Linked DNA regions of Homo sapiens: region 1 is linked to region 2. Evidence: fine-mapped expression QTL. A gene starts in region 2. The other region holds a variant in brackets. All regions are shown on one strand. Distances are between the middles of the regions. Region 1 has its middle 60 kb from the start of FBN2. Region 2 holds the start of SLC12A2 (solute carrier family 12 member 2).

Region 1 (5,380 bases), 510 kb before region 2:
AAAAAGTTAATGGCATCAGACTAGAAGCTAAAGCATGATGTAAAAATAAAGTAAAGGCATTTTCAGACATTAAGGGTCTTGCCTATTATAGGTAATCTTTTCTCAGTAGGATGTGCTCCACAAAAACAAAAAATCTAAACTAAGAAATAGAAGGATATGGCATCCAGGAAAAAGAGATTCAATATAGCAGCAAGGCAAGGAAAATTCCCAGTTTCAATGTGACCAGAAACCTTAGGATGATAGTTATGTAGTAGGTTGAGATAATAAATATTGCAGGAGGACTTGGAGCTTAAAAAAAGATGACGAAAAAAAAAGAGACTGATAGATTATTATCTGCTGTGCTTGATTTATGACTTTATTTTAAAGAGTTTCATAGATCAGTAGAAGAATTTGGTGATTGTTAGCAATAAGTACCTGTATTTATAAGATAAGCAAACATGTAAAAAGAATTCATTATAAACTCCAAAAAAAACAAAAAGCTTCATAAGATGTAGAAGGTCACTATATTACAAACTCTGCTGTTGACAATATTAACATACTCAAAAGAATGTGGACACTCAATATTAATTTAACCAAAAATTACATGATAACTATACTGAAAGTGATGAGAGATGGAAATTGTAGGCACTGGTGGCGATTGCTGTTAAAAAAAAAAAAAAACTAACTACTTATCTTCAGTAACTGGAAATCAATGGATAATGTCTAAAATTTAAAAACCAAGAAAGCAGAAAAAGCAAGTTTTCAGAAATACAGCATAAGAAAGAGTTAAGAATTGAAAGTCATCATCTCTGAGAGCAAAAATTAAGGGTAGATATGTATGAAGGGGGCTGCAGTTTGTTGTCATATGCCTTGTTGTCTTACTTTGCTTCTAAAAGTGTATACATGCATTCACTCTGATTAAAATTATAATTTAATTTAATTTTTTCTATCTGGTGCAACTATAGGTATACTCAGGATTTATTTCTCCATACCGCATTCATTGAAATGTCAGACATTCCTTGGTGTGTCAAAAAGGAAGGAATGCGGAGACTAGAAAATGGAAGACCACAATGGATTTACCATATGCAAACTGTCTAACCCACTCTCTACATTCCCTAGGGGGAGTCCAGAATTCACTTCCTTCACTGAAGTTTGTGATACACATTAGTGAGAATAACACCAGCAACTTAGAAAGGTATCTTAGCATTAGGAATGCTAATGATAGGAACTCCCCAATGGGTCATGGGGATGATTCAATCAGATGTCCATCATATGGCATTTAATCAACAGAGGGAGAGGAGGCATAGTTATCATAGTGATCAGAATGTTCTAACCTAGATATTTTTGACAATGTTTAATCAACCATGCAGTCTAAGATGTTGAAATAAAATCTTGTATATTTGAAAAAACTTTGGATCTGGTAAATACCACCAAAATACATATAAAATTCTTGACCTCTTACCCAAGTCCTAGAACAAAGTCATTTTAAAAAGTTTTACTGATATGTAATAATTGTCTGTATGTATGGGGTACATGTGATATTTTGATATATGCATATAATGTATAATGATCAAATCAGGGTATCTAGAATATCAATCACCTCAAACATTTACTTTTTCTTTGTATTGATAACACTTGAAATCTTCTCTTCTAGCTATTATGAAATATTCCACACGTTATAGTTAACTATTGTCACCCTACTGTTCTATCAAACAATAGTACTTAGCCCTTCTGTGTTTGTACTCATTAACCAGCCTCTTTTCATTCTCTTCCACTCCTGACCTTTCCTAGCTTCTAGTAATTATCATTCTAGTCTCTATCTCAAAAGAGGACACACAAATGGTTTACGGGTATATTTCAAAAGGCTCAACATAACCAATCAGGGAAATGTAAATCAAAAACTACAATGAGATTGTTTCACCCCAGTTAAATGGCTATTTACAAAAGACAAAAAAAAAAACAAAAAAAAAAACAAAAAAAAACAAATGCTAGCTATGATACAGAGAAAAGGGAACTCATACACTGTTGGTGGAAATGTAAATTAATATAGCCATTATAGAGAACAGTGTGGAGGTTTCTCAAAAAATTAAAAATAGAATTACCATATGATCCAGCAATCCCACTGCTAAGTAGATACCCAAAAGAAAGGAAATCAGCATATCAAAGATATATCTGCACTCCCATGTTTATTGCAGCACTATTCACAATAGCCAAGGTATAAAATCAATCTAAGTGTTCATCAGTGGACAAATAGATGAAGAAAAGGTGGTATATATACACAGTGAAATAGTATTCAGCCATAAAAAGAAAGAGATCCTGTCATCTGCAGCAATGTGGATAGAACTGGAGGTCATTATGTTAAGTGAAATAAGCCAGGCACAGAAAAACAAATATTGCATGTCTCACTCGTATGTAGCAGATAAACATGTTGCACAAAGTCATTTTAAAGATCCAAGAGGCTCCTTCAATGAAGAAAAGCCTAATGACCACAAAGGACAATAAAATCACTGGTGTAGAGAAGAGATGCATTGCATAGAGACAAGAGCTTTTATTTTGCAGTCAGAATACTGGATTCAAAGTCTGGCTGTAACATTTACTAGCTGTGTGACTTTTGGCATTTACTAAGTTAATTGTGTTATAAAGAAAGAAAAATATCAAACATTTAGAGAAAAGATAAGACACAATCTGTGAGGCAACACTAATTCCTAAGAACGCAGGATTCGAGTGCTCTCCAGCATTATCCCCAGAATGAACTCTAGTGGGCATTTTGTCCACTTCAAGGGAAACCAAGTATTGGCACACTACACAACATTTCTCCCAGCCAAAGAATTCACTTTACTTTAGAAATAGCCAGTCTTATCATAGGACCCTCATCTAGAGTCAATCATCTTATAAAAGCGTAAAATGTGCTGGGCGCGGCGGCTCATGCCTGTAATCCCAGCACTTTGGGAGGCCGAGGCTGGCAGATCACGAGGTCAGGAGATCGAGACCATCCTGGCTAACACGGTGAAACCCCATCTCTACTAAAAATACAAAAAATTAGCTGGGCATGGTGGCACACACCAGTAGTCCCAGCTATTCGGAAGGCTGAGACAGGAGAATCACTTGAACCCAGGAGGCGGAGGTTGCAGTGAGCTGAGATCATGCCACTGCACTCCAGCCTAGGCGACAGAGTGAGACACGGTCTCAAAAAAAAAAAAAAAAAAAGAAAGAAAGAAAGAAAAAAGGGTAAAATGCACTACTGAAGATGGATTTAAGTCCTAATGTACAATAGATACTTTGAAAATTCAGGG[C/T]CTGGTTCTGTAGATGTAGTAATTGTTCTTTAACCAGCAAACAGTAAACAATTCTGTTTTTCCCAAAACCAAATTATATTAGTTGAGGAACAAAGGACTAGAAATATGGTGCTATTCACTTAATTATCTATGGTGCTATATTAAACATGGTGCTATTACCTAATTGCTAATTACATCTTGCAAAATTTTGCATTCCATCCCATCAGCTCCAGGCTCTGCTGGCATGGGGATCATAGAAAAGAGGAATGTTTTCAGCATTTGATGGAGCTTAGACTTCTATTGGACTATTTTACACTCTTCATGTTGAAGACAGGGGGAAAATGGTGTTTTAGCGTAGTTTGATTGATTCTAATTCTCAAGGAAAAACTGGATTGCTGTTATACAATGGGGGCAGGGAGGAGAATAAACAGAACACCTTCTCATATTACCATGCCCAGTGTTAAAAGTTAATCAAAGACTCTGGCAATCTATTCAGGCAGAACCACCAAAAGCTTAGATCCCTCCGGAAGAAGGTTTGAGTGATCCCACTGGGTAAAGAATCCCAGCCAGCTGAGGTGCTAGCAGAGGGCAAAGCAAACAGAAATGCTTGGTGGAGGAATAAAGTCATAAATACCAGTGACAGTCTCATGGTCACTTGCAGAAACAAAGACTAAAGCCTCTACCCAATTTTTCTTTCTTGTTGAATCATGGTTATATTTGCGCATTTTAATTAAATTCCCTTTTCTTGAGGAGGTAGGTGGTAGTAATCAACCATATAATGCGTGCTTTCAGTAGCCAAATTCTGAAGTGGGATTATGCGGAACCAAAGAAGTGGACATCCCCCAGAGATTCTGGATTTGGAGTCTGGCTCACTTCAGATTTTCTTACTTGGGGGAGGGAAAGAGTGTATTGTAAGTTATACGAAGGATCATTATATTATGTTAGATAAGGACTTTTTTAATGTAAATATGTGTAGAAGGACAAATATAGTCAGCCAAAAGGGTAAACTGTAGTGAATATTCCTTATTTGTTGGCTGCACAAACCTCTTCCTTTTGGGGAGAAATCTCCCACTGTGTGAGCCCTGGAGAGAGACACAGCCCACCTTTGCACACAAAGGCCAAAGGAAGACAAGTGTGTCCTCTCCATATCCCATGAACAGGTGCCTCGCCCCCGCCATCTGGTTCTTTTTCTCAGCTTTTGTACCTTCATCAAGTGATGCAAGGATAAAGGGACAGTTTATGCTACTGTGCTCAGCATCAGGGGTGGGTAGAGATAGTGGGCGGTTGTGGCTTTACCATCCTGGCACTGTCACCTGAGGAGGTAGGGCCAGCAGCAGTGTCTGAACCAGAGCATTTGAGGCAAGATTTTGCCTGTGTTCCCACTTCCTGACTTCCTCTTGTTTCTTACTTATATCCTTCTCTTTAAATTAAGCAAAATTGTTTTCCCTTGCTAATTAGGCAAAATTGTTTTCCTTTGCTTACAGCAAAGAGCCAAGTGAGACAAATCTATTTTCACTACTTTAGAAGAAAGTCAACCACTTTGGTGGGGCTAGCCCATCTGAAAGTAGGAAAAGAATACGTGGCTTTGTTAAAAAGCCTGTTTTGGCCTGCAGCCAGGAATGAAATATGTCAGACTCTGCCCAAGCTACCATAAGTGAACTAAAGGGAGGGGAAAAAAACATTGCAGGATTTACAACTGAGACCCGGAAAAGCCTGACCCCAAGCCTGCCAAGCACCATCTCTAGCGCACACTCTGTTTGATAATAGCGTCAACTACCTAAGCACAAGCTTTGTAAACAAAATAGGTTCATGGATCCCAAATAATCTTTTCTGCCATCGATGTCCTAAAACAAATAGATTCATTCAGTAGATGGTGCAGGGAGGTGGCCACCAATGGAATCCCCAAATTAAGCATGACTGATTAAACTGTTGATTAATTTTTGAAAATAGCACAGAAATGAGCATTACATTTAGCAAGACAATGGAGAAAAAAAATCATCAGTGTACACTGTTGTGAGTCAAGACTCAAACTCAAAACTTTACAAACTTACACATAAATATCTTTTCTTTAGAACTCACTAACTATCCATAAAAGTGGGTTTTGATACAGGGTGTACTAACTCCTCTTT
Region 2 (5,380 bases):
CATACTTGGCTTTGGTAAAATAAATCTAAAATATATCTGTATAATATTTTCATTAGTAAAACTGTCCTAAGATAATGAAAATTGCCAGCTCCATATCTACTTTTGTCTACAATGATTTTTGAGTTTTGAAAAGAAAAAAGAATAGACTTGATAGAAACTACAGGAGTATGAATAAAAAATGTTTTAGACATTGTTTTGCTTCTGATTATGACAAAATACCACAATGGAATAACAAGAATAGTATTATCTAAAGCTAAATGATCTCAGGCTTTTAAACAATCAATAAGCTGTAAGAGCTCTGTAATTACCTCTGTGTGAATGTTACATTATCAAACACTGGGACAAGTACAATCTTGTATGAAATCACTGTATGAGATCAAATAATCATATCCAAAAGAAATCACATACTGGATTTAAACTTGTCCAAACTGTGATCATTTCAACCTATGTGGTACCATCCTCTTGCGTTCACAAATTCCATCAATGTAGTCATTACACACTTGTAAAGGAAGACTTCAAGTAATCCCGGCTCATAAAAAAGTTAAACATTAACGAAATCTCAAAAGCATCAATGTTATCTCAAAACAGTGACATTGAACGCTGAAGAAATAAGTCTTATGTGACCATAAAAAATAGTTACAAAAATCAATGAGTTTATGGGGATGGTTTTCTGTTTACAAAGTGTAACTGCTTATGGCAAAGACCCCACAGGTCTTTCTGGTCATCCTCTACAGAAAAACCAATTCTCCTGTTTCCCTTTTTTCTTTAAAGACTCGCCTCTGTCCCTTTTTTTTTAAATATACACCTCTCCCAAAACGTTTTCATCGCAAAAAAAAAGAGTTATGCCATTATTAGGAACAGCGTGTCCCAAGACAAGATCTCTATGATCCTTTGTATATTCAAGATTGCAAGAATTGAGCTTTAATAACTCATAGACCATAAACACACCCTGTTAAGGTTTTCCTTCAAACAGCAACATTCCCACTCTTGCGATCCCTAATAGGCGTACATAAGCCACACAACACAATCTTTCAAAACGACACAGATGGTAGGTGCTCTCCAACCTCTCTCGAGAGATCCTCACTGCACATTCTCCTCTAAAGGGCCCACAAACACTACTGTCATTCAGAGGGATGGTGACTGTTGAGCGTGGGTGGGAAAGAAAGTGCACACGAGATACCTAACTGGATGGGGAAGGTTGTTAGAGGCAGCCCTCCGGTATCACGTAACTAGCCAAACCCGCTACAAACTTTTGAGAGATTAAGTTAACATTCCTCGGCAATTCCACCCTTGACAGCTGAATCCAGAGATGCCAGCAAGTCGTGCACGTCTACTACTCCCGCCACCTCAACTCGGGAAGAGTCTGCAGCCACATCCCGCGGTCGGCATGCACCAGGGGCTGGGGAAGAAGGGAGGGCTGGGCGAGCTCACCTTTTCCAGCTCGTCGTGGAGCTCCGCCAGGCTAGGCCGGAGCAGCTTCTCGCCCAGCTGCGCGGCTGTGTGCCGGTAGTGATCGATCCTGGGCACAGCGTCCATGGTGTTGTGGCCGAAGGTGCGCAGGTAGTAGGTGTTGGTGTGGGTATCATAATAGTAGTGCTGGTGGTGCCCACTGCCGCCGCCGCCGCCGGAGTGCAGGCTGCTGCCCTCGCTCAGCACCGTGTCCCCGCCGTTCTGGAAGCTCACGTTGGGCCCGTCGACTCCGACCCCGGCAGCATCTGACAGGCTGTCTTCAGCCGACGAGGAGGCAGCTGGGTCCACGAAGTTCACGCGGAAGCGGCCCTTGGCTTCCTCGCTGCCTTTAGCCGGCTCGCTCTCGCCGCTGGCTTCCCCGTCCGCGGGGGTCTGCTTGGCCCCCGCCCCAGCACCAGCCGCCGCCGCTGCCGCCGCCGCCGCCGCCGCCGCAGCAGCGGCCCGCCCGGCGTTCTCGGAAACCAGGTCCACCTGGAAACGGCTCTGGCTCGGGGTGGGCCCCAAGGGTCTGCCCAGCCCGTCCCCGGCCGCCGCGGGGCCCTCATCGCGGACCCCGCCGCCGTCCCGGCTCGCGGGCGCAGCATCCTCCGGCACCGAGGGCACAGCCGTGCCGGGCAGTTCCACCCTGGCTGCGGCCAGCGCAGCGGCTGACGGCGTCTCCCCGACCCCGGCCAGTCCCGGGGCGCCGGAGGAGGGCGCCGTGGGCCGCGGCTCCATAGCTGCCCGACCCCCGGCGGAACTGCAGAGCCCGGCGGACGTCTCCGGCAGCACGCCCTCCACACCCCTGGCCGGCGGTGGCCACAGCCGCAAGACCAGGTGAGAGAGTCTTTCTCCCCGCCGCCTGCGGGCCGCCGCTAGCCTGGACGGCCACAGAGGCCACCGGCAGCCGAGCGAGCGCGCGAGTGTGGCGGGCGCGGGGCGGGCCCCGCTGTTTAAAGCCTCGGCGGGGCTGCGGCGGCGGCGGCTCCGGCAGCAGCACGCGGGAGGCGGGGCCGGAGGCTCCTCCGCCCCTCAGCCCGCCCACCCGCGGTCCCGCAGCGGCGCGCGGCTGACGCTCCCTCAGCGATCCGGCCCTCCGCGGCTCCTGCGCGACCCCACGCAAAAGCGCCCCGTGCGAAGAGCGCGGCCAGCCAGTCCGCAAAGGGCCTCGGGCAGTGCGGGCAGCACGAACGGCGCGATCGGGGAGCAGGCGCGGCTACGCTCCGCCTCAGTGATGTCGCCGGGAGGATCTCCGCGCGGCTACCTCCTCTTCCGCCGCCTTCCTCCCACGCCTTCACCTCCCTCCCCCGCCGCGCTCTGCGGCGAAAAGGAGCGGGCTCCCAGGCCACCTCCCCTCTCTCCACCCAGGGGCCGCGCGTCAGTGGACCTGCAGCCCAGGCAACGGGGCTGCGGACGGCGCGCGTGCCCTGCCTCGCCTCACGCCGGTAGCTGATGCTCCCGCGGCAGCTGCCACCCCAGCGCCCCAGCCACGGCTTCAGAGGCTCTCGCACGCTGGCTTTTTTTTTTTCCCCCCGCTTTGGTGAACTCGCAGTACTTGGGCTGAGCCCGAAATCTCGCGAGATGCTGCAGGCGTCAGTGCGGCTTCCCACTAGGCGCGTGGTACCCGAGGCCGGGCCGGAGCCGCAGGCCAGCCGCGATTCCTTCGGGCGATGCTGGGGGCTTTCCGGTCGGGGCCGCAGCCGCTTCCGGAGCCGCGGGCGAGGTGCGTTCCCCAGCCTGGTTTGCTCTGGGCTCTGACCCGCCGCCGCGAATCTCCGCTCGTAACTCCGGGCCTGAACCTGGAGGAGGGAGGATTTCCTCTGTGCAGCTTTCGAGCGGTAGACTCACCCTGCCAGGCAGACCTAGATTGGCATAACCAGAGATCAGTTCCAGTTGTGATGCAGTGGGTGTCTACACACTTCTGATGACACCTTTATTTTAAAAGCTGATGTTCCAAGGTGAGAAGGGAGCTTCTTTGAGACGTCATGTTGTTTCAAGACGAGTTTTAATTTAAGGCATTTCCAAAAGTGATATGCAGCTCATCTCTCAGAATACAATGCCGGCAATAACTACCCGTGGAGTCCTTACCAGGAGGTTTCTGCGTGATTTGGGTTGTGCAGAATTCCTCTGCTTATATAGAAACAGAAAGGTACTCCTCTGCAGGTCTAGTTTCTCTTCGGTAAAATGTAAGGGAATATAACTGTGTTCCCACTTTCTTAGCAGCAGAAATTTTTAAACCTATAGATTATGCCCAAAGTCCTAAGTAAAATCAATGAATGGCGTCCTCCAATTACTTGGTTTTTATTTATGTACTTTTTTTTTTTTTTTTTGAGACGGAGTCTCGCTCTGTCGCCCAAGCTGTAGTGCAGGGGTGCGATCTTGGCTCACTGCAAACTCCGCCTCCTGGGTTCACGCCATTCTCCTCCTGCCTCAGCCTCCTGAGTAGTTGGGACTACAGGCGCCCGCCATCACGCCCTGCTAATTTTTTGTATTTTTAGTAGAGTCGGGGTTTCACCGTGTTAGCCAGGATGGTCTCGATCTCCTGACCTCGTGATCCGCCCACCTCCGCCTCTCCAAGTGCTGGGATTACAGGCATGAGCCACCGCGCCCGGCCCTTGTATTTTTAAACTTTGACTTTATGGAGACGAACACCATCGTTTGCTGAACACTTGAAACATGATGAAAGAGCCACAGAGTTGGCAGAACTGTTTGAAAATGCTGTAAGTAAAAGCTGCAACCAGGCAATTTTCAAAAAATTGTCATAAACATGATCTTACTTGAACTTGACAACTTTTCAGGCTATTTTATTATCTCTATTTTTAAAGACGGTGAGAGGGGAAAACAGCTGTTGCATCAGGATTTTTAAAGCTCCTTTTGAGCTTTAGTAATAACCAGAGGAGGCCAGAAAAATGAGGTGGTCCTTTAAGCAGTGCAGTTTTCTACTAGGGAATTGCTGCATTAGTAGTTGATCCGTGCAGTACCTTTCAGCTCCACAACGAATTCTGCCACTATTGGAATTCAACATTCATTTAGTTGAATAAATACTGAACAGGTACTATGAGCTACTCTGTATTTACGGGATATAGCAGTGAGCAAAACGGACAATCCCATCTCTCATGGAGTTCTTTCTAGTGAGAAAGAGAAACAATAGACAAGATAAATAGGTAAAATACATAGCATCCAAGCAGTGAGTACTAAGGAAAGGGAAATGGGATATTTGTGTGAAATGAGGATCATAAAATTTTCCATAGGATGGCCTCACTGAGAAGGTGATATTTGAGTAAGGAAGTGAGTGATATGAGTTCTTGGGAAAAAAAGTGTCTGAAGCAGAGGGAAACCAAAGACCCAAAGGCAGGAGCATGCTTAGCATGCTCACGGAATTGCATGTAAGCCAGTTTGGCTGGAACTTGCTTAAGAGATGTGAAGAATCAAAGGCAATTACATCAGAGAGCTTAGGATATGGGATGTAGTAGATCAGAATGTTTAGGACCTTTTTTGGCTGTTAGACATACTTGACTTTTTTAGTAGAATAGTGTGTTAGTCAGCTCAGGCTGCCATAACAAAATACATAGATTGGGTGGCTCAAACAGTAGAAATATATTTTCTCACAGTTCTGCCTGCTGGAAGTCTGAGATCAGAATGCCAGCATGATCATGTTCGGGTTTTCTTTTTGGCTTGCAGACAGTACCTTCTCAATGTCTCCTCAGATGATAAAGAGAGCGTTGTCTCTTTTCTTATAAGGGCACCAGTTCTGTGGAATCAGGGCTTTACCCTGATCACCTCATTTAACCTTAATTATCTCCTTAAAAGGACTGTCTCCAATACAGTCACATAGGAGTGAGGAGAGGATTCGGGCTTCAACATATTAATTTAGCAGGGTACACAACAGTCCTTGGCAGATGGCAGGTTATTGGAAGGTTTCAGTGGAGGA

What was found. PIP is the estimated chance that this variant, and not a neighbour inherited with it, causes the effect. A credible set is the group of variants that fine-mapping cannot tell apart.
Region 1: its variant is the best candidate, but not a certain one, in a credible set for the expression of SLC12A2 in pancreas (GTEx, PIP 0.53).

Annotation. Positions count from the first base shown.
Region 1 is chr5:128,595,755-128,601,134 of GRCh38, reverse strand. No RefSeq gene overlaps it. Among named protein-coding and RNA genes, the nearest start is that of FBN2, 60 kb to the right of the region's middle. The variant C/T (reference allele first, on the strand shown) is at 3,273.
Region 2 is chr5:128,080,762-128,086,141 of GRCh38, reverse strand. SLC12A2 (solute carrier family 12 member 2) reads right to left here and starts at 2,376. Exons shown (of 27, transcript NM_001046.3): 1 at 1,432-2,376. The coding sequence starts at 2,187. It overlaps SLC12A2-DT (SLC12A2 divergent transcript), which reads left to right and starts at 2,967. Exons shown (of 4, transcript NR_152813.1): 1 at 2,967-3,172. RefSeq lists an enhancer at 1,223-1,392 and a silencer at 1,883-2,712.